Linked DNA regions of Homo sapiens. The protein of the gene in region 1 interacts with the protein of each later gene in a pairwise test. Each region holds a gene or a part of one and is shown on either strand. Other genes may lie near its edges. The genes, in order: GMPPB and TXNDC5.

Region 1 (13,085 bases):
GTGCTGCCACTTGCATGATTTGGGTTGTGCTCATACCTGCCTGCCATCTATGCCAAGTGTGTCCTCCTGAGCCCCTCTGTCCTTACCTGTTGACTTTGATATGGGCCTCAGGTGCAGGACCACTGTGAGAGTCTGCTGCCTCGACATTGGGACAAATAAGACTCTTGCCTGTCAACAAGATGTTCCGATGTTGGAGGAGGGCTCCAAAGCTGGGGGCAGGGAACCCATAGGCCTGGTATTGCTTTCTCTTGGTTCTGCAATGGGAAAACCCAGGGTGAATGTGGCCTGCCTGGTTCCACTTAGATAGGTGAGCAGAAAAGCTCAGGTTGGTCAAAGTCCCTTCCAGACAGTGTTTGCCCAGGGCACTGTGAGCTCTTCAGACTTCCCTGGCACTCACCCTGTCTGCCTCCTGGGGTTTCAGGTGTACCAGCTGGACACAGGGCATTACCTCTGCAGGAACAAGTACTATGGCCGTGGGCTCTCCATTGAAGGCTTCCGCAATGCCCTCTATCAATATCTGCACAATGGCCTGGACCTGCGACGTGACCTGTTTGAGCCTATCCTGAGCAAACTGCGGGGCCTGAAAGCTGTGCTGGAGCGGCAGGCCTCTTACCGCTTCTACTCCAGTTCCCTGCTTGTCATCTATGATGGCAAGGAGTGCCGGGCTGAGTCCTGCCTGGACCGCCGGTCTGAGATGCGTCTCAAGCACCTGGACATGGTGCTCCCTGAGGTGGCGTCATCCTGTGGCCCCAGCACCAGCCCCAGCAACACCAGCCCCGAGGCGGGTCCCTCCTCTCAGCCCAAGGTGGATGTCCGCATGATTGACTTTGCACACAGCACATTCAAGGGCTTCCGGGATGACCCCACCGTGCATGATGGGCCAGACAGAGGCTACGTGTTTGGCCTGGAGAACCTCATCAGCATCATGGAACAGATGCGGGACGAGAACCAGTAGGCCCTGTTCTGGGCCCCCAGAACCCCTTCCTCTCCACTGCAGGCAGGGACCATTGTTCTGAACTTGCCGTGAGGACACACAGACTTGCTTTTAAAGGGTTATATTTCTCTTTGGTGTAAACTAAAAGAAATGTTTTTAGCTGTAGCCTGGAATCCATATATATAAAGTGAAGGAGGGCAGACCACACGCCCTCTCAGCCAGGCTCCTCAGCTTTGTGGCTCTGACTGGTGTGTCCAGGCTGCCTTAGGAAGGAAGAGGTGCCCCTGGTGGGCTTGGCAGCAGGGACAGGGTGCCCTTGGACATTGGTTTCTCTTGTCTAGATCTTTGAGATCTGTGGCTGCAGGGCCCTGCTGATTGTAAGGTAAAGCCCTGGGCTGGTGCAGGGCCCCTCCACGCCCACTCTTCCCTTGTTCCCCAGAAGTAGAGGGCTCTGGGTGCCCATTTCTTGGGGGCTTTCCAGTCTTATGCTGTGGGTGTCAGCTAGCTCTTTAATAGGTGCCCTCAGGGCACCACAGGGCTGACTGCACAAAGCTGGACCCATCCTTCGGTCTGACCTTAGCATGGGGCTAGATTAATGAAGCTGGGCTGAGGCCAACTTATGGCAGAGGGCGGCGCCTGGGTTCCCCAGGCACCTGTTGGCACGTGACAGGTTGGCACCTGTCCTATTCCTGAAACAGCCTCTCTCACCAAGTTCCCTTGCCTAAGAAGGCCACTCCCTCCCACCCCACTGAAGTGGGGGATAGTCGGTGTCCTAGCAGGCCTCAGGGCCTCTGGTGGCTCTGGCCCAGACAGTATTTGCAGTTCTTGTGCTATGGGTGGGAGTCTTCTTCCTCAAGTTTCGGCAGCTGTGCTGCTGCTGGATGGGCTGCTCCTCCCAGGGCTCAAGGGCTGTGGTCCGCTCAGGGTCTCATTTCCCCAGGCCAAGTTCAAGGCAGCAGCCCTTTGTGAGGCGCTCTTGGCCCTGGGCCTGGAGGGAGAACTTTAAGCTTTTTTGCTCACAGGGACGTGGTATGGGCCCTGGGTGCAGGTGCCCACATTCTGCTAATGAGAGCTTTGTCTGATCAGTCCTGGGTCCATCAGTTTGTCCATGTGTCCGGCTGCCAGCCCGTCCCTTGGGATCCTTCCCCTGGGGTGTAGCCTTGTTCATTAGTATATACTCATTCCTTCATGCTTTCCTCAGCAGAACACTTCCACTTCTGAGGTGAGCTTTTGCCCCATGCCCTTCCTCCACAGGTGTTGCCTTTTTATAAAGACCTGATAGCAGAATAAATTGGTGTTTCCCTGTTGACCCAGCACCATTTCTGTGGGCCTAGAATATGGCCCTCAACCCTTAGAGTGGGGCAGTGAGGGCTTGAGGAGTGACCCTTCCTTTCTCATGGTTTTAGTCATTTTGGCTGCCAGCCCTTAATGGCACAGATCTGCTGCTTCTAACAGATGGCCAGGAGGTGACACCGATTTCAGCCATTGCCAAGGTTAGCACCCTCTCCTTTGAGCCTAGGGCCACACTGTTCATTGTCACTTTAGGCAAGTGCCTGTTTGGCTTTAAAGGTAAGCCTGCCAGCTGTGAGAAGCCTTGGTAACTGATGGACTCATTTCCTGGTCCTTAAAGATGCAGCCTCTTAAGGGCTCCTTGATGGATGCCATCTCTCCTAGCCCCCAGCCCTGGTGCCACTGGTGGGCAGGTTCCCATTCTTTGGGGCTGGGAGGGACAGCTTGCCTGTTTCTGGTCACAAATTACAGTCTTCTCTCCTGTACCATTCTGTGGCTTCAGCCATGGGGGCAGTAGCCCTTCATTAGTGTAGATAGTCATTCCCTGGTAGGGTGGAGGGTAAGACATAGGGTCTGGAACTGTTTGGGACCTTTTGGGGATGTCCTGTGCCTCCCAGATTCCTCGATTCTGGGAGGAGAGGCTGCCGCATTCTGCTGCTCCTCACAGCGAGCAAAGCTGCACCCACTTACATTCAGTATTTTCCTGGCACTACAAAGAGTGGGAAGGCCTGGGATTTGCTGCTGCTCCCTTAGAGCAGGGCCCCTCTTTTCAGCACTTTGGACACCTGGAGACCCAGCCCTGTTATTTAATGGTAGTGGGCAAGTGTGTGTGCATACTGTCTGCCACTGCTTTCTCCCTGCCCCATGCCAGAGAGCCCTGTCCCTGCCAGGCCCAGCCTTCTTAGCCCCAACTTGGGAACAAAGTGCAACATGGGATCATGGGTTGGGGTGCTCAGGTGAGCCCTCTCTATAGTGCTTCCCTGGGCCAAGCTGACACCAGCCCCTGAGGGTGGGGTGGGACGGGTGGTGCTTAAAAGAGGAAGGGGACCAGTGTAGCAACTTGCCAGGGACCCCACCCCTCCCTCTCTGGGCCTGTGCAGTGAGCATGGGGATTCCCATCAAGGGGCCTGGCACCTGTGCTAGTTACGTAGCCGCTGCTCACGCGCTCACTCCTGACCACATGCACGTTCCCTAGATGCAGACTGCTTTGAACTTTAAAGCTGTACAATTTGGTTATGTTTGTGCTGACTTAAAATATATTTTAATGAGGAAAAAATAATGGAGAACCCTGGGAAGGACCTGGTTCTTTTGCTTCTCGGGGAACTGTAAGCCCTCGCGTTCTGGGAATCGCTCTCTGCTGCTCTTTCCTGGAAGCTAAGCCTGTCTCCACCGCCCGAGGCCTGCGCCGGTGGCTCCCGCCGCAGTTGCGTTTGCTTTGGACCTTGCGTGCGGGGGAGGGGGTGCTCGGTCCGAGCCCGCTCCTTTCTGTACACCTAGCGCTGCCCGCCCCGCTTGTGTCTGAGGTCGTGTATGTCAAAAATAAAGCCGCTAGAAACGGAGGCGAGTCTGTCTTTGTGAAAATCCCGTGGCCCGGGAGCCTTCCCTGGTCACCCTCGGGGCGAGGCCGGGGCCGTGGGGCGGGGCCGGCGGCTGCTGGACCGCGGCGAAGCAGGGAACAAGGCCTCGCCCTTGGCGCCAGTTCCGCCTTTGGATCCGCCAATGGCCAGCTGACCCGCGGGTCCCGGCCCGGGTCTCCATGGCAGCCCGGCGTACTCGGGCGCTCATTGGCTACGTCTGTCGCAGCGCTGCGCTCCAACGTTCCGACGCCGGCGGCCGTGCCACGTACGCGGCAGCCGATTGGCCCGCGGTGGTCGCGTCACTGCCCGCGCCGGGTCCGGCCTGAGTTCGGGGCCAGCAGCCGTCTACCCGGTGTCGCGTTCTGTGTTGTGGCGGCCCTGGATCCGGCGTCAGGGCGACCGGGCGGACGAGGTGGAGCCAGAGTCTGTCAGGCGGGTTGGTGAAGGGCGCGGGGCCGGGCACGGCGTTGGGAGTGCGCGGCAGGGACCGGCCAGGCGGGCTGCAGGCACCTCAGAGCCCGGGACACCCCCTCAACGTCCGCAGGCGCGATGAAGGCACTGATCTTAGTGGGGGGCTATGGGACGCGGCTACGGCCGCTGACGCTGAGCACCCCGAAGCCACTGGTGGACTTCTGCAATAAGCCCATCTTGCTGCACCAAGTGGAGGCGCTAGCCGCGGTAAGACCCTGGGTCGGGATCAGAGTCGCGTTCGGATCTGGCGGGACTAGGGATGGCCAGCGACTAGGGGTCAGGGGCTCCCGTACCTTCTGACTGAGCCCGCCCGTCGGCCTGCGTTCTGACAGGCAGGCGTGGACCACGTGATCCTGGCCGTGAGCTACATGTCGCAGGTGCTGGAGAAGGAAATGAAGGCACAGGAGCAGAGGGTGAGGCACAGACTCTTGGCCCTTATTCTCGGTCCCCGCCCAACTTCCCATCCTGGTAGAACCTGACTGGGGGGGCCTCTTCCTTCCAGCTGGGAATCCGAATCTCCATGTCCCATGAAGAGGAGCCTTTGGGGACAGGTCAGTAGAGGCAGAAAGGTCCCTTGGGGGAGGGTTTAAGGCCAGGAAAAGGGTAAGACCCAGCCTGGAGTGGGCCTGCTGAGCCTGAATCCAGGGACTCAGACCTCCAGCAAGGTGGTGACCTGTCCCCTTCCCCCAGCTGGGCCCCTGGCGCTGGCCCGTGACCTACTCTCTGAGACTGCAGACCCTTTCTTCGTCCTCAACAGTGACGTGATCTGCGATTTCCCCTTCCAAGCCATGGTGCAGTTCCACCGGCACCATGGCCAGGAGGGCTCCATCCTGGTAAGGCGCCAGGTCTTCTCTCTCTTGACACTTTCACCCTCCATGCCCAGCCTCCCATGCCCCCTAGCCTTCATCTGCCTTCGGATGTTATGGATACAGAGCTGTGCAGTATGTATCTTTAAGCACTTGGGGCAGAGTCTCTTGAGATCTGGAACGGCATGTGTATCAAGGCTTAGGAACACTGGACTAGGTCCGAGGTCCCCTTCCTTGCATTCAGGTGACCAAGGTGGAGGAACCCTCCAAGTACGGTGTGGTGGTGTGTGAGGCTGACACAGGCCGCATTCACCGGTTCGTGGAGAAGCCACAGGTGTTTGTGTCCAATAAGATCAACGCAGGCATGTACATCCTGAGCCCTGCAGTGCTGCAGCGCATCCAGGTGTGTAGGAGACAGCTGTTGGTGGGCTGGGGTGGGGCAGGCCATCACCGCCATGACCCTGCTCACAAGCTGCCCACTCCCACAGCTGCAGCCTACGTCCATTGAGAAGGAGGTCTTCCCCATTATGGCCAAGGAGGGGCAGCTATATGCCATGGAGTTACAGGGTGAGGCAGGGAGGCCACAGGGTGGGGGTGGTCTGTGGCTGGGCTGAGGCCCCTGATGCATCCCTCCCTACAGGCTTCTGGATGGACATTGGGCAGCCCAAGGACTTCCTCACTGGCATGTGCCTCTTCCTGCAGTCACTGAGGCAGAAGCAGCCTGAGCGGCTGTGCTCAGGCCCTGGCATTGTGGGCAACGTGCTGGTGGTGAGGCCCTTGCCCAGCCCATCATTAACCCCCTCAGTCTTGGGAGACAAGTGGCCCACTTGTATTTTTCCCACCGCTCTCAGGACCCAAGTGCCCGCATCGGCCAGAACTGCAGCATTGGCCCCAATGTGAGCCTGGGACCTGGCGTGGTGGTCGAAGATGGTGTGTGTATCCGGCGGTGCACGGTGCTGCGGGATGCCCGGATCCGTTCCCATTCCTGGCTTGAGTCCTGCATTGTGGGCTGGCGCTGCCGCGTGGGTCAGTGGGTAAGCCTGTGGGCTGGGCTGGGTGGGGAGAGGGGCGGGGAGTGTGCCTGCCTCCCTGACAAGGCCTATCCTCTCCTGGAGGTACGCATGGAGAACGTGACAGTGCTGGGTGAGGACGTCATAGTTAATGATGAGCTCTACCTCAACGGAGCCAGCGTGCTGCCCCACAAGTCTATTGGCGAGTCAGTGCCAGAGCCTCGTATCATCATGTGAGGGGATGCAGTGGGGCTGGCCGAGCCCCGGTTTTCCCATCAGCAAGGGGAGTGCTGGCCTGACACATCAGAAGACCCTGGACTTGTCATTATTTGTCTGGGGGGCACTGGGTGAAGCTGAAGCTGTTGGACACCTGCCTTCTCATGTGGACATCATCTGGCAGGATCCCTGCTGGGCACACCCCACAAACCCCACTCCCTCAAGAAGGGCCAGGGCCAGGGCTGTATGGAATAATAATTTAATGCTCACTGTGGCCCTGACTGAAAGTCAAGCTCAGGCACAATTAGGGCCATGGCTGGGCTCCCACCAATGAGGATACAGGCAGGCAAGGAGGTTGGATGTGGTGGTGTGGGATACAGGAGAAGGGCAAAGGGAGCTCATAAATAGGGCCCAGCCTGGCTCTGGGTTCAAAGGTGGAGGTTCCAGGATGGCACAGGCTGTGAGGGCTAGGCAGCTGAGGAGGTAGTACTCGTATTGGCTCCCTTCTCCCAGTCCTCTACAGACACGATGGTGGTTTTGCAGAAGAAGCAGTCCTTGTTGTTCATCAGGTGCTGGTTGATACAGGCTCTACAACAGGGGAGGGGATGAGGACTGCCCTGCATGTACCTACTGCTCTCCCCACCACCAAGCTGTGGGGCCCACTTACTTGCAGGACTTGTGGCCACAGGGCTGGAACACAGCAGAGATGGGGTGGGCATAGCAGATGGGGCAGAGGTCCTCCTCACTGGTGGGCTGCAGGGAGGAGAGTGAAGGGTGGGCTGGAGTTGGATGCCTGGCTATGTGGATGTCCGTTGTGCCTGTGTAGGAGTGCACACATATTCAAGTGGCATGGACCTGTGCACCGTGTTCCCACTCACCAGGGAGGCAGCTGCTGCCTGGGCAGATGCAGAGGTCAGGTGCGCCAGCATCTGTTCCACTTGGGCCAGCTCATCGGCACTGATATAATCCGCATCTGGGGAGTGGTAGGTAGTGTCAAGTCAGAGGTAGCTGAGGATGTGATGCCTCTTGAATATTCCCAGCCTAGGACTTTGCTGTTCTTAAGGCTCCTGACCCGACCCAGCCCCAGATTTCCCTGACCTGCCCCACCAGCCCACTCACAGCTCTGCAGGGAGAAGCGCTTCCGGTCAGGGGCTGGCAGAGCAGTGCCAGGTGCTGGGGGCTCTGGCTGTCCCAGGAGATAGCATATTGAGCGTAGCTGGAAGCAGGGATCTGCCAGGAGCACTGATGTGGCTTGCTCTCTCCTAGGTAGGGGAGGGTGCAAGGGCAGTCAGAAGGCTTGGGGCCTGGCTAAAAGTCTCTCTTGGGATTGCCAATGAGGAGTGCCATGGCTCGTACATGATCACCCCCCCTGCATCCTTTCCGTCTCCCTGCTTCCCAAACCCCAAGTCCTGTATTCTAGTAAGGTGCCACACAGCCTGTTTTTTTTTTTTTTTTCTTGAGACGAGTCTCGCTCTGTTGCCCAGGCTGGAGTGCGATGGCACGATCTCGGCTCACTGCAACCTCCACCTCCCGGGTTCAAGTGATTCTCCTGCTTTAGCCTCCCGAGTAGCTGGAATTGCAGACGCCCACCACCACGCCCGGCTAATTGTTGTATTTTTAGTAGAGACAGGGTTTCACCAGGTTGGCCAGGCTGGTCTCGAATTCCTGACCTCAGGTGATCCACCTGCCTTGGCTTCCCAAAGTGCTGGGATTACAGGCGTGAGCCACCGCGCCCGGCCTGGGGTACCACTTTAAGAAGGCTCAGGCGAACCACCTTAAGATAGTGAGAGTCTGCCTGCCCCATAATATTATCAGTCCTTCAAAGTCACTTCAAATAAACACTAACAGCAGCTTGGAGACATTCTTCCAGACTCCCCCTTTTACTCCCCGAGGAAAAACGAGCGGCGGAGAGCTGCCAGCCAAAGGCTGACGGGGACTTTGGGGTTGGCCTTGCTCCCCATCTGGCGGTCATGCGGGGCCATTGGGCACAAAGGGATGTAGCCGCCCCGCCTCCTCAAACGGGAACCAATAGGAGCCCGGGCCCCGCCCCTGGGGGGAGTATTTAGGAGCCGATCAGGAACTCGCTTGGAGAGGGCTAGCGAAGCCGAAGGGAGCGCGGCTAAGAGTGCCGCACCGCCTCACAACCTGGGAACCGGAGAGTAGGGGCCGTCGGCTGGCAAGAACCCGCCGTGCCTCCTCGGCAAGGGCCATCCGGTGCCACCCATGTCGCACTAGAGCAGAAGAGGGTGAGTCCTGGAACTGCAACCTGCACAGAGCTGCTCTGTACTGTCCCTGGTGGTCGCCGCCATGACCTGGTTGGTGCTGCTGGGGACACTGCTCTGCATGCTGCGCGTTGGGTTAGGCACCCCGGACTCCGAGGGTTTCCCGCCCCGTGCGCTCCACAACTGCCCCTACAAATGTATCTGCGCTGCCGACCTGCTAAGCTGCACTGGCCTAGGGCTGCAGGACGTGCCAGCCGAGTTACCTGCCGCTACTGCGGACCTCGACCTGAGCCACAACGCGCTCCAGCGCCTGCGCCCCGGCTGGTTGGCGCCCCTCTTCCAGCTGCGCGCCCTGCACCTAGACCACAACGAACTAGATGCGCTGGGTCGCGGCGTCTTCGTCAACGCCAGCGGCCTGAGGCTGCTCGATCTATCATCTAACACGTTGCGGGCGCTTGGCCGCCACGACCTCGACGGGCTGGGGGCGCTGGAGAAGCTGCTTCTGTTCAATAACCGCTTGGTGCACTTGGACGAGCATGCCTTCCACGGCCTGCGCGCGCTCAGCCATCTCTACCTGGGCTGCAACGAACTCGCCTCGTTCTCCTTCGACCACCTGCACGGTCTGAGCGCCACCCACCTGCTTACTCTGGACCTCTCCTCCAACCGGCTGGGACACATCTCCGTACCTGAGCTGGCCGCGCTGCCGGCCTTCCTCAAGAACGGCCTCTACTTGCACAACAACCCTTTGCCTTGCGACTGCCGCCTCTACCACCTGCTACAGCGCTGGCACCAGCGGGGCCTGAGCGCCGTGCGCGACTTTGCGCGCGAGTACGTATGCTTGGCCTTCAAGGTACCCGCGTCCCGCGTGCGCTTCTTCCAGCACAGCCGCGTCTTTGAGAACTGCTCGTCGGCCCCAGCTCTTGGCCTAGAGCGGCCGGAAGAGCACCTGTACGCGCTGGTGGGTCGGTCCCTGAGGCTTTACTGCAACACCAGCGTCCCGGCCATGCGCATTGCCTGGGTTTCGCCGCAGCAGGAGCTTCTCAGGGCGCCAGGATCCCGCGATGGCAGCATCGCGGTGCTGGCCGACGGCAGCTTGGCCATAGGCAACGTACAGGAGCAGCATGCGGGACTCTTCGTGTGCCTGGCCACTGGGCCCCGCCTGCACCACAACCAGACGCACGAGTACAACGTGAGCGTGCACTTTCCGCGCCCAGAGCCCGAGGCTTTCAACACAGGCTTCACCACACTGCTGGGCTGTGCCGTGGGCCTTGTGCTCGTGCTGCTCTACCTGTTCGCCCCACCCTGCCGCTGCTGCCGCCGTGCCTGCCGCTGCCGCCGCTGGCCCCAAACACCCAGCCCGCTCCAAGAGCTGAGCGCACAGTCCTCAGTACTCAGCACCACACCGCCAGACGCACCCAGCCGCAAGGCCAGCGTCCACAAGCACGTAGTCTTTCTGGAGCCAGGCCGGAGGGGCCTCAATGGCCGCGTGCAGCTGGCAGTAGCTGAGGAATTCGATCTCTACAACCCTGGAGGCCTGCAGCTGAAGGCTGGCTCTGAGTCCGCCAGCTCCATAGGCTCCGAGGGTCCCATGACAACCTAGACTGCCCAGGGCTCCCCCACCCAGGCCCCCACCCTCTTGCTGCTCGCCCTGCTCCCTGCTTCGGTCCAGAGAACTGGCAGATACTGGTGGGAAGCACTGTGCCTGGCCCCCCAGCTTCCTGTATGGGCCTCGAAACACAATGGGCCTTCTCGCTCACTGGTAGAGACAGGGGTTGTGGTCCCCAACCTGCCTTCTGCTCTGCCCCTGCACAGGACCCAAAGGCCCCAGGCCCTGCAAGGTGTGCTAGTTCCTGCTTTCCCGCGGACTTCCTAGTGCCCAAATGCCCTGTGAGGCTGAGAGACCCAGGCCCCTGTGGCTTTCAACACAGCACAGCTGTGGAAGTGGCTGTGTTCTTCTACAGCCTGTGGAAGAACCCCTGTAGCAGAGCCTCCCGTCCACCCTCAGGGGCTGAGACAGCTCTCGAGGAGTGGTGCTCAAGAGCTGACGCAGGGCCACCTCCCCTTCCCAAGGGGGTGGGAGGGAGTGGGCCCACAGGGAAAAGAAGGCGGCTCTGAAGGAAGATCTCGCCCACACCCCAGGACAGAAAGAGGAAACAAGCCCGCCCTCTGGTGAAATGGGACTCCCTCCATCCACCAACACCCAACCTCCTGAAAGCTTCACAACTTCACGCAGAGTCCGGTGGGCAGGCACCAGGCAGGAAAGGCTCCTCAAGAGGTTCCTGGTGGTCTGGCCTAAGCCCCAGCCAGAGGCCCTGCTCTCTCTGGCCTGGGGCATCCACCCGTTGTTCTGAAGGCAGAGCCCATTCTGTGGGCTCACAAGACACAGTGAAGGGGATCATGGCCTGCACCCCTGCTTTTCAGCAGTAAAAAGCCCGAAAAGCCTGGCGAGCATGGCCGAGCTGGGAGGGCCGAGCCGGAACTCCACGTCCCTCGAGAGCAGGAGCCTCTTAAGGGCTGGCACTGGTCTCAGCCTAATGGCTGAGGCGGTACCCTGGCTTCATATGCATCTCACTGCTCCCACTGCAGGGGGGCAGGGAAGGGGGGTCTGGGAGCCCTTCATGTGTGGGGGCCGAGCTGGGGGCCCCCATGGCCATCCTGGACCTCGCTGCTCCAGAGTTTAATAAAGGTAGCACATGCTTATTGCTAGAGCCTTTGCAGACAATGGCGGTCCTCCGTGTGTTCAGCTCTCCTGGCGGCCTGGCCCTGTCCACCACAGGACGGCACACCCTCCGGAGTCCTGCCTCCCATGCCTGGCCTGAGGCATGGCCACAAGCCAGTGGCTCTGTGGGCCAGGGCCACCTGTCCTGCTGGGGTCCCAGATTCTCCTACTTAGAGCAGCTCCGTCTGCCCCCTATTTAGGCCGTTCACACCTCACCACCTTCCCTCTGCCTCAAAACCTGATGCTGAGGTCCATTTTCCAGATGAGGAAACTGAAGTACCAGGAGGCCCTGTCCAGCCCCTCCTCACCAGACACACCCAACTCCCACAGGGGCCCACGGTCCCCAACACTCACTCTGAGGCTGGGCCACGCACCAGGAGCTGCACCAGGATGCCCGTCACTGCCACCAGAATGGGATAGTGGTCCACGCTCTCTAGGCCTGAGGGGAAGGGGAGGAAAGAGATGAGCCACCCACATGCTCCTGCTTCAAGGGCTCCAGGCCTGCCCACTGCCCTCTCTACAGAAGGGTGAGCCGAGACTGCAGAGCACCAAGTCTGGCTGTCCGGGGGCAGAATGTGGAATCAGGCCTCACTGTTCCTAGCAGAGGAACCGAGGCCTGTAGTGTGTTGGGGTGCAGGGCATCTAGGTCCTCACCAGGCAGCCGTAGGGTGACCACACGATCAAACAGGTTCCTCTCAGCTGTCACCCGGTTCAGCACCTGGTTTAGCAGCTGTGAGGGGAGCAGGAGTCCATTGGTGGATGGGGAGCGTCATCAATGGGGCATCCCCAGGGTCCCACCCTTGTTGCCCAGATGGCCACACCTGTGCAAGACGCCGCAGCAGCATCTCAGAGGTAGGCCGGGTCCAGTCAAGGAATATCTCAGGCACCAGTGTGATAGTCATCTCCAAGACACGCAGCAGGCTGACCGAGAGGTCAAAGCAGGTGGCACATACCTTGAGCTGCCGGCTGTCCACAAAGTTCCGCTCCAGGCGCTCAGCAGCCTGCTGGATCTGAGCCACCAACACGTGGGCATGCAGTGGTCAGCACCTGGCTCTAGCCCAGGACCAGGCCTCATCCCTTGCACCACCCTAACCCACGAGGCCCCACCACAGCCCACCTCTTGGATCATGCCAATGAATTCAGAGAAGGCCCAGTTGAGCTGATTGAGGACGCTGTTGAGGAAGCTGGGTGCCACATCAGGACCCTGCTGTAGGAGGTCCGCCATGTGCTGCTGCAGCAGGGTGGAAGGGCAGGGCTCTGCAGGGGGACAGGAGGCGGCATCATCAGGGACTCCACTGCAGTGGCCTCTGCCTGTTTGCCTCTGTCCTCGCCCATTGAGGCTTTGGTATAAGGACAGAAAGATGGCTCCCTAGGAATGCTCAGGTCATGAAAGCAGGGGACAGAGGACAGCTGCCTTGGAGTTAGTTGGGACAGAATCTGTCCCCTCCTTCTACTAGGCAAGCCCCAGGCTGCAGCTGTGTCCAGCCCTGACACCACACCATCCACTCCAGGTCCAGAGCAGCCACACAGCCACAGCCTGACCCTCAGCAAGTTCTGGGTCGCACACCCTTCAGATAGGGTCAGACCTAAACAGGGCGGCTTAGATGCTTCCCCACCGGCACCAAGGCCAGCTCCTCCAAGAGCCTACTCTAAGCCCTGCTGCAAACCTGCTGTCCTCTACTGTCCTCTGCTGCCCTTGGCCTGGCCTTGGCATATGGCCGAGGTGGTGGGCACCAAGTCTGGGCTGGCAGGCAGCAGTAACCGGAGCCCTCAGCTGCAACGGGCCTGGCGCACCTCCCCACCAGCTTGATACAAATCAATAGTTCCCGCAGCAGCAGGA
Region 2 (14,998 bases), on another chromosome or scaffold:
TCGGTGTTGGGCCAAGTTTTCTGAAACACATCTATGTGTGAATAAAGGGAGACTTATGTATTCACACTGGAAATTTTATGGGGATCATTCTGATATTAGGAGACCATTTGCAAAAAATGGGATGTGGTATAGAAAGATCTTTTAAGTGTAAAGAGTAACTAATTTGATTCATGTTATAACGGTGTCATTAAATTCTGGGTTTTGTTTGGTTGTTTTCTGAGACAGGATCTCACTCTGTCACCCAGGCTGGAGTACAGTGGCATGATCACAGCTCACTGCAGCCTTGACCTTCCAGGCTCAAGTGATCTTCCCACCTCAGCTTCAGGAGTGCGCTTACCATACCCAGCCTTTTTTTTTTTTTTAATCTTCTGTAGAGACAAGGTCTTGCTTAGGCTGATCTCGAACTCCTGGGCTCAAGTAGTCATCCCACCTTGTTCTCCCCAAGTGCTGGGATGATAGGCATGAGCCACTGTGCCCAATCTAAATTCTGTTTAGACAGAGAGAAGCTTTTGTTTCTGCCTGAGGTCATTAAGCATATGATTATCATTAATACACAGGCATACTTCCGAGATACTGTGGGTTTGGTTCCAGACCACTGCAATAAAGATAATATCACAATAAAACAAGTCACACAAATTTTTTGGTTCCCTAGTGAATATCAAAGTTATGTTTACACTATAGTCTATGAAATGTGCTACAGCATTACTTCTTTAAAAACAATGTACCTTAATTAAAAAATATTTTATTGCTAAAAAGATGCTGACAGAGGGATACAAAGTAAGCACAAGCTGCTGGAAAAACCGCTAGACCTGCCAGATGCTGGGCTGCCAAAATCCTCAATCCGTAAAAAAATGCAGTATCTCCAAAGTGCAATAAAGTAAAGAGCAATCAAGCGAGGTGAGTCTGTCAATAAACACTCTTAGCCAAGGATGCACTGTCCAGCTAGTGTGCGGGTCACGTGTGCTTAGCATTAGACTCGGCGTTTCTATAAGGGCACAGACAAAAGGAGAACTCATGTTTTAGAGGAGGTGCACTGAACAACGGTCCCAACAGCTCCTCTAGAGTGACCCTTTGTCAGTGCCACTGATGCTGCTATCTAAGAGCCCTTGAGTAGCAGGAAGGAAAAGCCCAGCACGCCAAGGAATAATAGTGATTCTCTGAAGCTGGCATCAGGACGTCCCCCTTACCTTGTGCAACGTGCAGCTCAAAGTTGCTTGCTGAGAGCTCATACAGCCCTTGCTTGAGCTCGGGGGCACTGGGCGGTTCCACTTCCGGCTCTGGTGTCTAACAGGAGGAAATAAAACAGTCATGGGTGTGTCAGTGGAGACACAGGGAAACCATCCAGGAGGTGACTGTGTCTGTGGGGAACCGCCTGCAGATGCCTCCCTCACCCAACAACCTGGAACCCTTGTACGATGCTGCTGTGCTGAGTGAGGCCAGGTCAGGAACTGATCTCGTCAAGCCCTCTGGAAGCTTCAGCAAAAAGCCCCCTCGTCAGCCTCACCCTCAGTGAAAGCTCTAGGTCTGAGTCTCCAGGGCAGCCAAGTGATAGCTGTCCCTACCCCAAAACCCAACCAAACAAAGCAGACAATGCAAAGGACAGTCTTACCCTATACCCTGTCCTCTTCTTTGAAACGTACTTGGATACTTCACAAAGAATACAAAATACAACGCCCAATGGACGTATTCTGAAGGGGTCAGCACTTGCAGACACCAGAGTGCCCAGCGCAGTGGCTCGTGCCTGTAACCCTAGCATTTTGGGAGGCTGAGGCAAGAGGACTGCTTGAGCCCAGCAGTTCAAGACCAGCCTAGGTGACAGCCTAGCATTTTGGGAGGCTGAGGCAAGAGGACTGCTTGAGCCCAGCAGTTCAAGACCAGCCTAGGCAACAGAGTGAGACCCCATCGCTACAAAAAAAAAATTTTATTTACCTGAGCATGGTGACGTGCGCCTGTGGTCCCAGCTACTTGGGAGGCTGAGGTGGGAGGATCACTTGATCCCAGGGGGTGGAGGCTGCAGTGAGCTGAGAACATGCCACTGCACTCCTGCCTGGGCAACAGAGTGAGACTCTTCCTCAAAAAACACACAAACAGACACGAGGGTAGCAAAATGGACAAAGCTGAGAATGAGAAACTCAGGGACCAGGAAGGCCTGGTTATCCTTACTTTACACAAATGACAGGGAAAACTGTGAGGAAGACACAACTGTGGAAGACTGATCAGAGAGAAAAGGAGGTGATGAGAAGGAAAATGCAGGTGAATGAAAGGCAACAGAGAGAAAACCATGGCATGAACATAAGCTGCACCTTCAAGAAAGAATGTAATTCATATGACTAAGTCTCATACAGAAAGAGGGGGAAAGGGGCTTTTCAAAAGATGCTTCTGCCAGGACCCAAGCAGACAGCAATGTGTGCAGCTGTCTAGTCACAATCCTACATTTCTCAACTTTTCAGACCAGGTACAGCTGTGGCTTCCAACCAAAGTAACCAGAAATGAGGGAAAGATAATGGAATCAGTGTTCTGCTGCAGACACATTAAGTGTATATTACTCAGCTTTTATCTGGGGGTTCATATTCCTATTAAAAAGAATATCCAAGCTAAGTTGTTAAAGGCTTTAAAGGTGCTGACAGTTCAAAGCTGTGCAGGGCTGGAATCATAAAGAACCACAAAGTTTCCCTTCTGCTGCCAGCGCGTCAAGACTTTCAAAGTGCTAAATACCCACACAAAACAATGCCCAAGGGAAGAATGGCTAAGTGAACAGTCAATGGGTGCACATAAGGTGAAATAAAATACCGTGTGCCACTCTCCATGAGATGTTCAAGGGCCTTTCAGTATGAAGTGTTCATTTATGGCACATGCGGGGCCTCTAGTTGCTTCCTGGGTTCCTGGCAGACTCCAGAGCAGTCCCCCGGCATGGGAACACCACAGTGCATCCCAGAAACAGGTCACGTCTTGCCCTACAGTGGCAGCATAAGCTGATATGGTGCTTAAGAAACCTGGCTATATTCATCAAGAGCCATAAAAATGATCTTTTTTTTTATTCTTGGCCTTATAATTTTATGTCTGGGAATACTATATTCTAAAAATATCACTCAAAAGAAGGGGGGGTGGAAAGTCCTTTACAAAGATAAACTTGTTCCCTACATCATTACTGATGATGGAAAAGGTATAAATAACCTAAATATCCACTGACAGAATTAGAGTTGAATTATGGCAAATCCACATGATAAAATAATATAAGACATGATCAACATAAAGACCACATAAATATATAAAATCATTAATGAGATGAAACATGTTTGTATAACTGTTCAAGAAAAAATACAGAAGCAAACATGGAAATACAAAAATTGCAGTAGAATGTACAAAGTGACAAATTGTCTTTTGAGTTTCTTGAATATTGCCACAACACTTAAAAAAATCTAAATTTATCCCACGTGAATATTAAAAAATGTATGTACTAAGTTACTTAGGTATACAGATAAAGAACTTTTTTTAAAGTTTTCACTTAAAAAGCTAAGAGAATTCTGGTTTGCAGTATAAAGTGTATATACTTAAACTTTTCCACAATAAGGCGCATTGTCATTGTTTCTGGCAATTATCTGGGGCCTGCTATTGCTGGAGACACTAAAATATGGCAAGTTGGTGACTGTGGTTCTGGGGTGGCATGGGGGGATTACACGCGGCCATCCTGCTCCCACACTGAGGAGACAGAAAGTCCCTTGCAGAGCCTGGACGCAGCCTCTCAGCCCTTTCCAACCTGCAGGTGAGGCCGCCACCTCCACTAAGGGAAATGGGCCATGAGATGAGGTCTTTCTGCCGTCCTGATACTGGCTGCTGGTTTCTTGAATAAAGCCATCATAGAAGACTGGCTTTTTTGGTGAAATTTATTTGAGGCTATTAACTCCTCCTTAAAATTGGTTTGCTACCATCCAATATATGTGTCCCCACAAAGAGAATATTTTCACAAAGGAAACAATGTCCAATTGAAAACTATGAAAGTCACACCTGCTCATTCAGCTTTCTTGCCAGGACAAAGATGCAAATTTCCTGAGAGGTCTGTGGTTCTTTTAGCTAAAGTTAGGTAAGTCTCTGGTTCAACGACATAACATCACACACCAACAGTCTCCACCATACAGTTCAGAGAGTTTTTTTTTTTTTTCCACGATAGTTTTTGCTCTGTTGCATAGGCTGGAGTGCAGTGGCATGATCTCGCCTCACTGCAACCTCTGCCTCCTGGGTTCAAGTGATTCTCCTGCCTCAGCCTCCCAAGTAGCTGGGATTACAGGCACCTACCACCTGGCTAATTTTTGTATTTTTAGCAGAGACGACGTTTCACCATGTTGGCCAGGCTGGTCTTGAACTCTTGACCTTGGGTGATCCACCCGCCTCAGCCTCCCAAAGTGCTAGGATTACAGGCATGAGCCACCACACCCAGCCGAGTTGAGAGAGTCTTTGCAGGTGAGGGATGGAAGCACTGAATCAGCAGCCAAGTTTCTGATTAGGTCATCAGAGAAGATGGGGCAGAGCGGAAGAGCCGCACAGACACACTGGAAACTGGCAACAGTAAGCGGCAAAGCTCCAAAAGGACCACCACAGACCACCTTCAAATCAGTGGGCGCTTAGCTGATACAAGAAGGTAGTCTTAGGTATTTGTTGAAATTGAAATTACAAAGACTTCAGATGCTCTTCCTAGCTCATCAGGATCCTACAGTGTAGGAACACGAGTGTTTTTCCAGTCCCTCTCCAACACAGCAGCATGACCCACCAGGTCTACCCGGCATCCAGGGACCTGAGCACTCGGCATTAATCAGAAGGCACCACCCACAAAGGAACACTTAACCAGTGGTTTATGATCATGATGATTTATAAAAAAGTGAAGACTTCCAACATCAACTGGGGAGGGGGAGGATTATAAATCCTTTTTAGTACATAATATTCTAAGAGTCTACAATCTCCTGATATTAGCCTTAGTAAGGGAAGTGCATTAAGACACAGAGTATTAATGGTACAAAATGATGTTATAAGCAAAGCCCATTAGAGACTCGGGGACTGAGCACCGAGAAGAAAAGGAAGGATCCACCCTACGGGTACAGCTGTCGGGCTAGGCCCGAGCCAGAGGGCTGCAGGTGGTGGAGGGCAAAGGTCGGGGGGATGGGAGGAGGCTCCAGTGCTGGCTTGGATAGGAGATTCTAGGCTGGGCCCAGCCCTGACCCCAGGTGGTCCAGAGTCAGTCTCTGATGCTGGGGTACAGTTGTGAACTGTATTACCTGTGACAGTGGCAGGGTGGCAGTGTTAACAAAGAGTAAGTGCTTATCTGTGAGGCCACACAAGTGACTTCCCTGAAGACTGACTACAGCCAAACAAGGCGCAGGGTGGTGGGGAAGACAAACACCAAAATGGTGGTAACTGCTGAAACTCAGGGTTTAGCCTTCTCTTGACTTTTGTGCACATTTAGGTATTTCCACACCAAAAAGTTTCTGTAAAAGTTCATCTTTACCTGTAATACCAATAAGCTCCAAAAAAAGTAGAGTTGCTTTAAAATGGCAGCCTTAATCATTAACCTCAACTGGCCTCTGCCCCGTTACATATTACCCCAAAGATGTAGGCAGGGAGAGAGGGAGGGAGGGAGGGAGGGAGGGAAGGAGGTAGACACTCACCACTGGCTCCTCGTTCAGTGTCTGCAGCATCCAGTTTTCCAGTGTCTGGAAGTCCCGAGGACCCTGGTACTTCACAGCTTCTTGGCCTGGCTTGAAAAGCTTTAAGCTGAAAGAATAACAAAGGATTAGACAGAGCAAAAAGAAAGTTGTCTTATCAGAGAGCAAACTCATTTAGTGAAACAATCAGAAAATGAGCTGTCAAGGGGCTGCAGCCAGGCATGTATCTGCTCCTCTCTGATAAAAAGGAAACAAACATAACGTTCCAGGAGATAATACATTCAGTTAATCCTAAACTTTCAGAAGTTTCTGGTTTTATTCAAGGAAAACTAAAATGAGGTGAAAACTTCCAGCCCGCTGCTGTGACTGAGGCCTCAAAAGCTACAGTACTCAGTGCTCCTCTGCAGCAGCCTCGGGCCTTCCCTGCAAGCTACTGTTATGCTTTCCCGGCTTCAGCAGTTGTTGTCTGTGTTCAAATTAGGACTGGAGCAGACACGGTGTTGTTTTGCAATTAAGGTATTCTTCCAGGCCACCTGGCAGGTATTCAACTCTTACAAGGCCTGAATATCCAGTTACTGTGAGAATTCAAGTTTCCAGCTATAAGAACATCCTTGACATTGACTGATGCTGTCCATTCACCTTCCCATAGAGAAGGAATCTTTTCTTTTTCCTACAAATGTTGGCCTCTGAAGGAATCTGCAGAGAGGATACGGGAGTAGGTCCTTTAACCATAAGCAAAAGACATCACCAGAGGATGAAATTAACACTCAGTTCCTGTATCCCTCCAGCAGTCACGGGAAAACGTGCTCTAATACTCTAGATAAAAATTCATAGAAGGTGTCAAGGATAGGCAAAAATGTGACTACCAATAGAAGAAAAAAGAAATACAGAGTACCATTTGTTAGCAAGCCTGCTCATCTAAACACCCCTGCCACTTCTACAGCGCGTATGTGGATTTTGTGAGTAAATGCCCAATGTACGGTATCAGAATTGTAAGACGGCAACATATGTAAAATCTGACATGAAGGTTTGAATAGTGTCTTAGTTCAACGGCTGTAACAGAAGACCACAGATTGGGTGTCTTAGAAACAACAGAATCTATTTCGCCTAGCTCTAGAGACTGGGAAGTCTGAGATCAAGGTGCCAGCAGAGTCAGTGTCTGGTGAGGGCTTTCTGGTTCACAGATGGTGTCTTCTTGCTGTGCCCTCACATGGCAAAAGGGGAAACAGAACTCTCTGGGGCCTCTTTCATAAGGTATGCAACCCTATTCATGAGAGCTCCACCCTAATAACCTGCTCCCTCTCAAAGGCCCCACCTCCTATTGCCAGCATTGGGGATTAGGATTTCCCCTATGAATGCTGGGGTACACACACATTCAGTCCAAAAAAAAATGGCTAATTCTCCTTAAAATGAAGTCACATGGCTAGATTAGGCTTTGAAATTAGTATCAGCATACTGGCCTTACCCAGAACCTAAGATGGTATGATGGGGCATAGGTAGGGTCCCTAATGTGTCTCCAGTGCAGAATATACACCCAGCTTCCTCAGCAGCTCAGACTCTCATAACCACAAAAAACAGCCAAAACTTAACTAGATTTGGCCAGTACACCGGCTACGTCACGAAGTTCAACATGATAAGCAACTGCAACATCTGCGGTATCAAAGATGATTGCCCTCACCTAGCCTGGCACCTCCCCAGGCTCCCACAAGGTGTGTTCCGCACCTGGAAACAGAAACTGCTTCCTGCACGGCTCTGCCTCCCGCTAACGCTCTTCAGGAAGGGAAATGGGTGGATCCTCAAGACATCAGAAAGGACCAGGGACGGTCACACTTGTGTCTTTGCTAAAAGTAAAATACAGTAAGACCTAGCCTATGATTTTTTTGTAATTTGCTATTCATTTGCAAAACAAATAATTTAAAAAAAACCATCTTCTTGTTGTTGGACTGATAATCGTTCTAACCTGCCCAGGAAGTCTGAGATTCTTCCTCGGTAAGTTCACAGAGCCCAGGGACAGAGCGGACACTTCTGGTCCAGACCTTGCAGTGAGTTTGGGACATCTGACTTCAATTCTCACTGTCGACAGGGGTGAGGGAGGTGATGGAGACTGGGCCACAGGGTACAAGCCCAAACAAAGTATTGCCCCAGATTTCCGCTATTACCAAGCCTCCACATGGGCATTTGAGTCTCCTTTTTCAAGGAGACTGCAGGGAGAAAATCCCCATGTAGGTACTGCCTTGGCAAACAGCATGATGAAAGTTCTACTACCGTAGACAGTGTTATCAGTTGAACTGTGTCCTGCAAGACAGATCTGTGTAAGTCATAACCATCAATCTCAGAAGGTGACCTTATTTAGAATAAGGTCTTTACAGAGATATTCAAGTTAAAATGAGGTCACTAGGATGGGCCCCAATCTAGCATGACTGGTGTCCTTGTAAGAAGGGTTTGGACACAGAGAGACACACACACACAGAGAGAGAAGGGCATGTGAGGACAGAGGACGGCAGTGATGCATCTACAAGCCAAGGAACGCCAAAGATGACCAGGAAACCAACAGGAGCCAGGACGAGGCAAGGGAGGATTCCCCTACAGGTTTCAGAGGGAGCATGACCCTGCTGGCTCCTTGATTTAGGACCTCTGGCCTCCAGGACTGCAGAGAATACATTTCTATTGTTTCTGGCCACCCGGTTTGTGGAACTTTGTTACAGCAGCCTAGGAAACTAACACAGGTAGTTCCCCCCGTCAGTCCTGCCCTGCTGTAATGATTCATGACTGGCCCAACAGGAAGACCTCAAAACATTTTCCTGAGCACAGCCAGCCATCTCTAGGGAGCGTGGGAGCCCAAACTCCCTGCCCCTCCAATCCTTTACTCCAGTTACACTTGCCAGGAAAGAATAACGTGAAAGCTCATGTCCTGACACATGCCTGGACTCAGGCAGGTACAGTCGTCACCTGCCTCGGGCCTCACAACCACTCTATGGGATGGGCACTTGTCTTAGAGGAGTCAAAGCTCGCTCAAGTCAATCTACAGATGCCCCAGTGCGACCACATTGCACACAGCACATTCCACCTCCTGCATTCTCGGGGGGAAAATAATCTGTTCTTGGAGCTTCTGCAGGGCAGTGATGGTCACAGAGGTTCCTTCCCAAACTGTGTTCAGTGTGGTGTACGTTCATTTTTGTTCTTTTTAATAACACAAAACCAGCCATGGTTTACTTGGGGAGACCAGCTCTTCTCATTAAAAATCTAAACACATGATCCAACATGGGCCTTTTTAAATTTGTGACTTTTTACATTTGTGACTTTTTAAATTTGTGATGGTTTTTGGTGAATACCAACTATGGAGTAGCTGATATTGCAGCTGACAGCTGTTATGGCCAGGCTGAGGTGGAAGCCTTCACTTCCTTCTCTGAAGCCCCATAACACATACCACTCTCAGCTCCATTACAGGTCCTGTGTCACCTTCCCTGTGGCATGGTGTGTGATGCACATAGTCTCAGGCCACAGATGGTCAGCAGGTTAAGAGGAAAGACACCACAGCCAGCTCACCCCTGCTGCCCCTGAACTTTGAAAGCAACAGTTTCTCAACAGGTAAGCATTCACCTCCTCGCCCTCATCTCTGCTCACTACCTGCTTCTTTGGGATGCTCTTGATCCATACTTTCAATGCAATACTATAAAGCATAGAATAGTTAATGCTTTTACGTAGATACAGATAGTAAGCAATTTTATCTCCATTGATCTGATTTAAAGTAAACCCAAATTATGGCACTTACATTAGCAAGCAGTCACCAAAGACCAAGAATTCCAGGGTCCTTTGTGGAAACGCCCACATTTCCAAATGGTAGGGAAAACCCTAACATGTATTGGGTGTGCTCAGATTGGTGTCTGCACACATTCCATGTAAGTCCTGTAACAATGTTTGGGGGATCACCTTACTTACAGGTTAAGTGATGAGGTCAGAGCTGGGTGGTAAGTAAATGGTAGAGCTGGGATTTGACTACGACTTCTAGGTTCAAGCCTGGAGATCCCTCCACTTTTCTGCCTCCCAGGTTTGAATATAAGCTCCAATTTTTTGCTTTATTGATGGACCCCTATATTATTCAATTAAGCAATAAATTGTATAGAATTGACTTCATTCCTCAATTGAAACAAACAGCAAGGAAGTGACCGTGGCAATCCCTCCACCTCCTTCAGAAACAGCTTCTTCTCTTTTTTGAAGAACTGCTTTTCCCTCCAACACTTGGCACATGGTGTGAATGGGCATGTGTCTTGCTATAAGCTCCTGTTTCCCTGGCCACAGTGACTATTCCTGGAACGAACATTCCAGCCAAGCAGGGCCAGTCAGTGGTGGGCCCTTCTGTGCAAACAGAGATACAGGCCTGGAAAGCCGTCATCTCAAGGGAGGTGCAGGAGAAACAGACCCCAGGCCCCTGGAGCTGGCTCTCAGAGGTTCCTCCACAGCCTTTTAAATAGTCCTTTCTTTCTGTTTAATAAGAGAACAATTCTATTTCTAGAATTGAGAACATTTCAATTTCTATTTCTTATAACCAAAAAAATTCTTAACTGTCAAGGAAGTAAGTATCATCGTCTGTCAGACTCTATACTTTCTTTCCAACAGGAACAGCCCTGTGGGAGTCACACGGGAAGGAACTATAGGAAGGGTGTTTGCGAATAAGTCACCAGCAAAAGCAAGCCAAAACTGATGACAGTCCATGCACACTGTGTAAAATGTACCGGTGAACATCTAGCATGGCGGGACCGTCATTTTTCTCTTGCAAACACATTCTCTTATAAACAGGAAAACCCAACACTGATGAATTAAAGGTTATCCAAGTATAAAAGCCATCTAAAACAGACACAGCATTAAATGCAGTTTCTCCCTAATGACAGGGACTGCCTGCTTAAATTTAGTATCTCTTCACACCTTTACCAAAAGTTTAACTAGGACTTTCTTTGTAGCCAGGAGCCACCTAGGAAGTGTGCCCCCTTCCTTCCAACTTACGTGGGGTATCCTCGCACCCCCTGGGCGGAGCACACGTCGGAGTGGGCCGTGCAGTCCACTTTAGCCACATAGACTTTGGCATCTTCCATGCTGTTGTATTTGTCTCCCAGGTCATTCCAAGTCGGCTGCAGCCGCTGGCAGTGTCCACACCTGGAACAAGGCAAGAGTACAAGCACATTGAGTATCAGGTCACAGGGCAGCTGGCCCACAACTTCAGCTCTGTCCAGGGGACAATGGGGCTCTCAGTCCTTTCTTTACACCATTGCAGATGGCAGCTCCTGGACCAGTACTCCAGGACCTCTCTCCCCTGCTCCCATCCCTCCAGAGTCACTGCCCTGTTCTCAGCATGAAATCTTGGCCTTGTTCCAGTATTAAACTTAGCAAAGTGTTGTTCTGGATCCTAGTTGTTCTGGCCCTGCTGACCTCCCGCTTGACTTCTATCCCAGAGTCCACCCTCCTTCCCTTGTGGCCTACTCCTGAGCCCTACTGCAGCATCTGCAGTGTTCCCAAAGGACTATAGCTTGGCTTGGCCCTGGGACACATTCTCTCTGACACTTCGTCCCTAAACTCCACCTAGCTAAATCTATCTGCCCTTCAGGTTTAGTTTGGGTGTCACTTCCTCTAGCAAGTTGGCCCTGACTCCCCGGGCTGTTCAGCACCCATTCTCTTCTCCTGCCCTTCTGGAAAGCCTCTCTACTCCTCCCTTGGACAGTAGCTTAGCACTTCCTGCTGTATCTGCTACTTTTATTCGTCAAGTCTCCTCCACTATATAACCAAATGGCTACAAACATAAGGCAATCTCAAAATTTAATCACCTGCAATTTTCTCCAATGAGAAGGGGAAAAAAAAAGTTTGTGGCCACCTATACTTCTAGGGTTGAAGTAAGCAAATGTCTATTCTTAGTATTCATTGTATGAATTCAGTTATGTATAAATATTTTAAAATCACCCATCATTTAAAATAGTATCTTAACTAGGCTTCTTGCCATGCTTCACATTTCATGAGGATATCAGCATCTTTCCCAACACTAGACCTTAAGTCATACAGCTGACCACAGCTCTTGCTGTGTTCTCTGGACAGTATGTCTACAGTGCCATACTCGAATTTTGAATGAGACAACCCTAGAAACTTTATCCCAGGTTTCAACTACAATCCCATAGCATTATGACACATGGGTTTGTTTGCTATTTAATATGGCAGGAACACACTGATGCCTACAATGTAACCACTTTGCTGTATCGCTTTTTAAAATGCTTTTTTTTTAAACACACTTGCTTATATGAACACTCAACGCTTAGAATTGTGACTTCTTCCTCAAAATAATTTAATAATCTGTTAAATCTCCTTTTATTTTCTGACAGATTACCTCAAAAATAAGCATTTAAGTCGGTAGCAGTGGCTCATGCCTGTAATCCCAGCACTTTGGGAGGCCAAGGCAGGAGAGCTGCTTGAGCCCAGGGGTTCAAGACTGGCCTGGGCAACACAGTGAGACCCCCATCTACAAAAAATTTTAAAAAATTAGCCTGGTGTGGTGGCACACACCTGCAGTCCTAGCTACCTGGGAGGCTGAGGCAGAGGGATCACTTGAGGCCAGAAGTTTGAGGCTGCAGCGAGCTATGATCACACCACTGCACTCCAGCCTGGGTGACAGAGATTTTGTCTCTTAAGAAAAAAAGGATTTAAGCCGGGTGTGGTGGCTCACACCTATAATCCCAGCACTTTGGGAAGCCGAAGCAAGCGGATCACAAGGTCAGGAGTTCGAGACCAGCCTGACCAACAAGGTGAAGCCCCATCTCTACTAAAAATACAAAAATTAGCTGGGCATGGTGGCACACGCCTGTAATCTCAGCTACTCAGGAGGCTGAGGCAGGAGAATCGCTTGAACCCGGGAGGCGGAGGTTGCAGTGAGCCGAGACCATGCTATTGCACTCCAGCCTGGGCGATAGAGCAAGACTCCATCTCAAAAAAAAAAAAAAAAAAAAAAGAAAAACAGACTTAAAGGTAGCACTGAAAAAGTCTGCTTCAAGTTAATGTGTCTTCCCTAAACAGCACTTTCTTGGCCAGCTAAGAGAATCCCTGCTTTATGAGATACTCAGATACAAAAAAAAAAGCACAATGAAACTATACATGCAGATTTAACTTCTGTAGATTCAACAAAGTGAGTTTATGTGGCGGGGGAGAAGGAAACAAGAAAAAAAAAAAGGCAATTCCCACAGAACCCTGAAGTGTGTGCAAGCTGGGAGATGTGAGGTTTTTGTTCCTCAGCAGGCCTTGGTTCCTACATGCTTCTCATGGCATGAGCATCTCTCCGACTACATTAAGTGTGACCCTGCTGTCTAAAGGCACAGGTTTGAGAACTAGTCCATTTGGTGTTTAACCAAAGAAGCCATGATAGTTCTAATGCTGGAGGAAACGCTGGCAGTGGGGACTGACTGACTGACTGGGGCGGTGTCCAACAAGGCACCTTCCTAAGGGACTGTCAAGGGCAGTTCTGACCTTCAGGGGACTTTGATCAGATATGCTCATTCTGGAACTTTAGAACTCCTCTGCAATCTTGACAAGGTTTTGTTTTGCTACTGCTTTTTTTTTCCCTTTTTTTTTTTTGAGAAAACACAAGATTAGATTAAGAATGAGAATAAACAATAAATAAGTTTGTGGTGCGCTAAATCAAAACTGACCATTCTGGGCCATCACCAAGTTGGGCGTGCCCTTGCTCCTGGCTGTGATGGGGCCACAGGTGCTATCTAGTCGGCCCTGCGGCTACAGCACCCAACTCTGAGACAGGCAGCTGCACTCAGAAGGTAGCCTGTGGCCAAGAAGTAGAGCAAAGCTACCTGGTCCAAATCTTGACCTCACTGTCACCAGGTTCAGGGTGACTCACAAACTGGCCATACAGAAGTTGTGACCTGATGTTGGCAAAAAATCTACAGCAGCAGGATAACCCTGCAGAAGCCAAGTGCAGGGCAAAAATACACAGATTGATGTTTTTGTTACAGGGGCCCCAGCCCCTTAATCACACGTGGGCTTTCACCACTCCACGGCAGCTGAAACTGGAAAAAGGTATGTGTGTGTTGAGGGGGAGTCCACTGAGTCTTCTATCTGAGCTCCAAACGCTCAGCTCACCACTCCAGGACCTCCTTCCCTCTCCTGCATAGACCCCTCCAGAGTCACCACCTTGCTCTCAGCCTTACAACTTACCAAAGTGTTGTGCCAGGTATTGTTGGTCCTACTTGATCTTGCCCCTGCTGACCTCCCATTTGACTCGCCGCCCACTCAGCCTCCTTTCCTGGCAGCCTATTCGTGAGCCCTACTGCAGTATCTGCAGTTTTCTGAAAGGGCCCTCTTAAAAGTCCAACTTAAACACCATCATAGAAACCCACATATCTCTGTTTAAGTATTTGTAGTAGACTATCAAGAAGTCAACAAATATGCCAGGTGCGGTGGCTTACGCCTGTAATCCCAGCACTTTGGGAGGAAGAGGCGGGCAGAACACGAGGTCAAGAGATCGAGACAATCCTGGCCAACATGGTGAAACCCCATCTCTACTAAAAATACAAAAATTAGCTGGGCGTGGTGGCACGCACCTGTAGTCCCAGCTTCTCAGGAGGCTGAGGCAGGAGAATCGCTTAAACCCAGGAGGTGGAGGTTGCAGTAAATCAAGATTGCGCTACTGCACTCCAGCCTGGCAACAGAGCAAGACTCCATCTCAAAAAAAAAAAAAAAAAAAAAAAGTAACAACATAAAGCTAATTATTCTGGAAGCATCCAGCTAAATGTCTACAAGCCACATATAATGGAAAAGGAATTTACTTAATACCAAGTGCCCAGATGTGCCAGTTTTCTCTCACTCAGCCCAGGACTAGCTGGTATTTATTGCAAAGATTCTAAACTTAAAATTCCTTTGGCACTGTGGGGACTTATTACATCTGCATGTCAGTTTTTCTTTAAAAAAAAAAAAAAAGTAAAGAATGGGATGCGATGGCTCATGCCTGTAATCTCAGTACTTTGGGAGGCCAGGGCAGAAGTACTGATTGAGGCCAGGAGTTTGAGACCAGCCCCGGCAACATAGCGAGACCCTGTTTCTACCAACTACAACAAAAACAACAACAACAAAATAAGCTGGGTGTGATGACCTGCGCCTGTAGTCACAGCTACTTCAGAGGCTGAGGCAGGAGAATCACTTGAGCCCAGGAGTTAGAGGCTACAGTGAGCTGCGGCTGCGTACCACTGGTTTCAGGCTGGGTAACAGAGCAAGATCCCATCTCTAAAATAAATAAATAATGAAGAAAGAAAAAAGAAAACCCATCGACAGATGTATTCCACTGAAATAGGCTCCAATTAAGT

The links.
Region 2: the proteins of GMPPB (region 1) and TXNDC5 interact in a two-hybrid assay, tested with the Homo sapiens proteins (2 studies listed by BioGRID and IntAct).

Annotation. Positions count from the first base shown.
Region 1 is NC_000003.12:49,714,992-49,728,076, reverse strand, and holds GMPPB (mannose-1-phosphate guanylyltransferase catalytic subunit beta), read left to right. Parts: upstream 1-4,125; 5' UTR 4,126-4,350; coding exon 4,351-4,479; intron 4,480-4,604; coding exon 4,605-4,685; intron 4,686-4,774; coding exon 4,775-4,823; intron 4,824-4,962; coding exon 4,963-5,105; intron 5,106-5,322; coding exon 5,323-5,481; intron 5,482-5,566; coding exon 5,567-5,645; intron 5,646-5,718; coding exon 5,719-5,846; intron 5,847-5,929; coding exon 5,930-6,112; coding exon of another isoform or gene 6,113-6,193; coding exon 6,194-6,325; 3' UTR 6,326-6,771; coding exon of another isoform or gene 6,772-6,892; 3' UTR 6,893-6,971; coding exon of another isoform or gene 6,972-7,057; 3' UTR 7,058-7,182; coding exon of another isoform or gene 7,183-7,277; 3' UTR 7,278-7,423; coding exon of another isoform or gene 7,424-7,566; 3' UTR 7,567-8,161; downstream 8,162-13,085. Other genes in the region: IP6K1 (inositol hexakisphosphate kinase 1), read left to right, coding at 422-955; AMIGO3 (amphoterin-induced protein 3 precursor), read left to right, coding at 8,612-10,126; E3 ubiquitin-protein ligase RNF123, read right to left, coding at 6,772-6,892, 6,972-7,057, 7,183-7,277, 7,424-7,566, 11,600-11,684, 11,900-11,975, 12,067-12,255, 12,363-12,502. UniProt on the Homo sapiens protein: Catalytic subunit of the GMPPA-GMPPB mannose-1-phosphate guanylyltransferase complex. Catalyzes the formation of GDP-mannose, an essential precursor of glycan moieties of glycoproteins and glycolipids. Can catalyze the reverse reaction in vitro.
Region 2 is NC_000006.12:7,893,919-7,908,916, forward strand, and holds part of TXNDC5 (thioredoxin domain-containing protein 5 isoform 1 precursor), read right to left. Parts: intron 10,806-14,998; coding exon 10,656-10,805; intron 5,764-10,655; coding exon 5,658-5,763; intron 1,285-5,657; coding exon 1,188-1,284; intron 1-1,187. UniProt on the Homo sapiens protein: Protein disulfide isomerase of the endoplasmic reticulum lumen involved in the formation of disulfide bonds in proteins. Can reduce insulin disulfide bonds.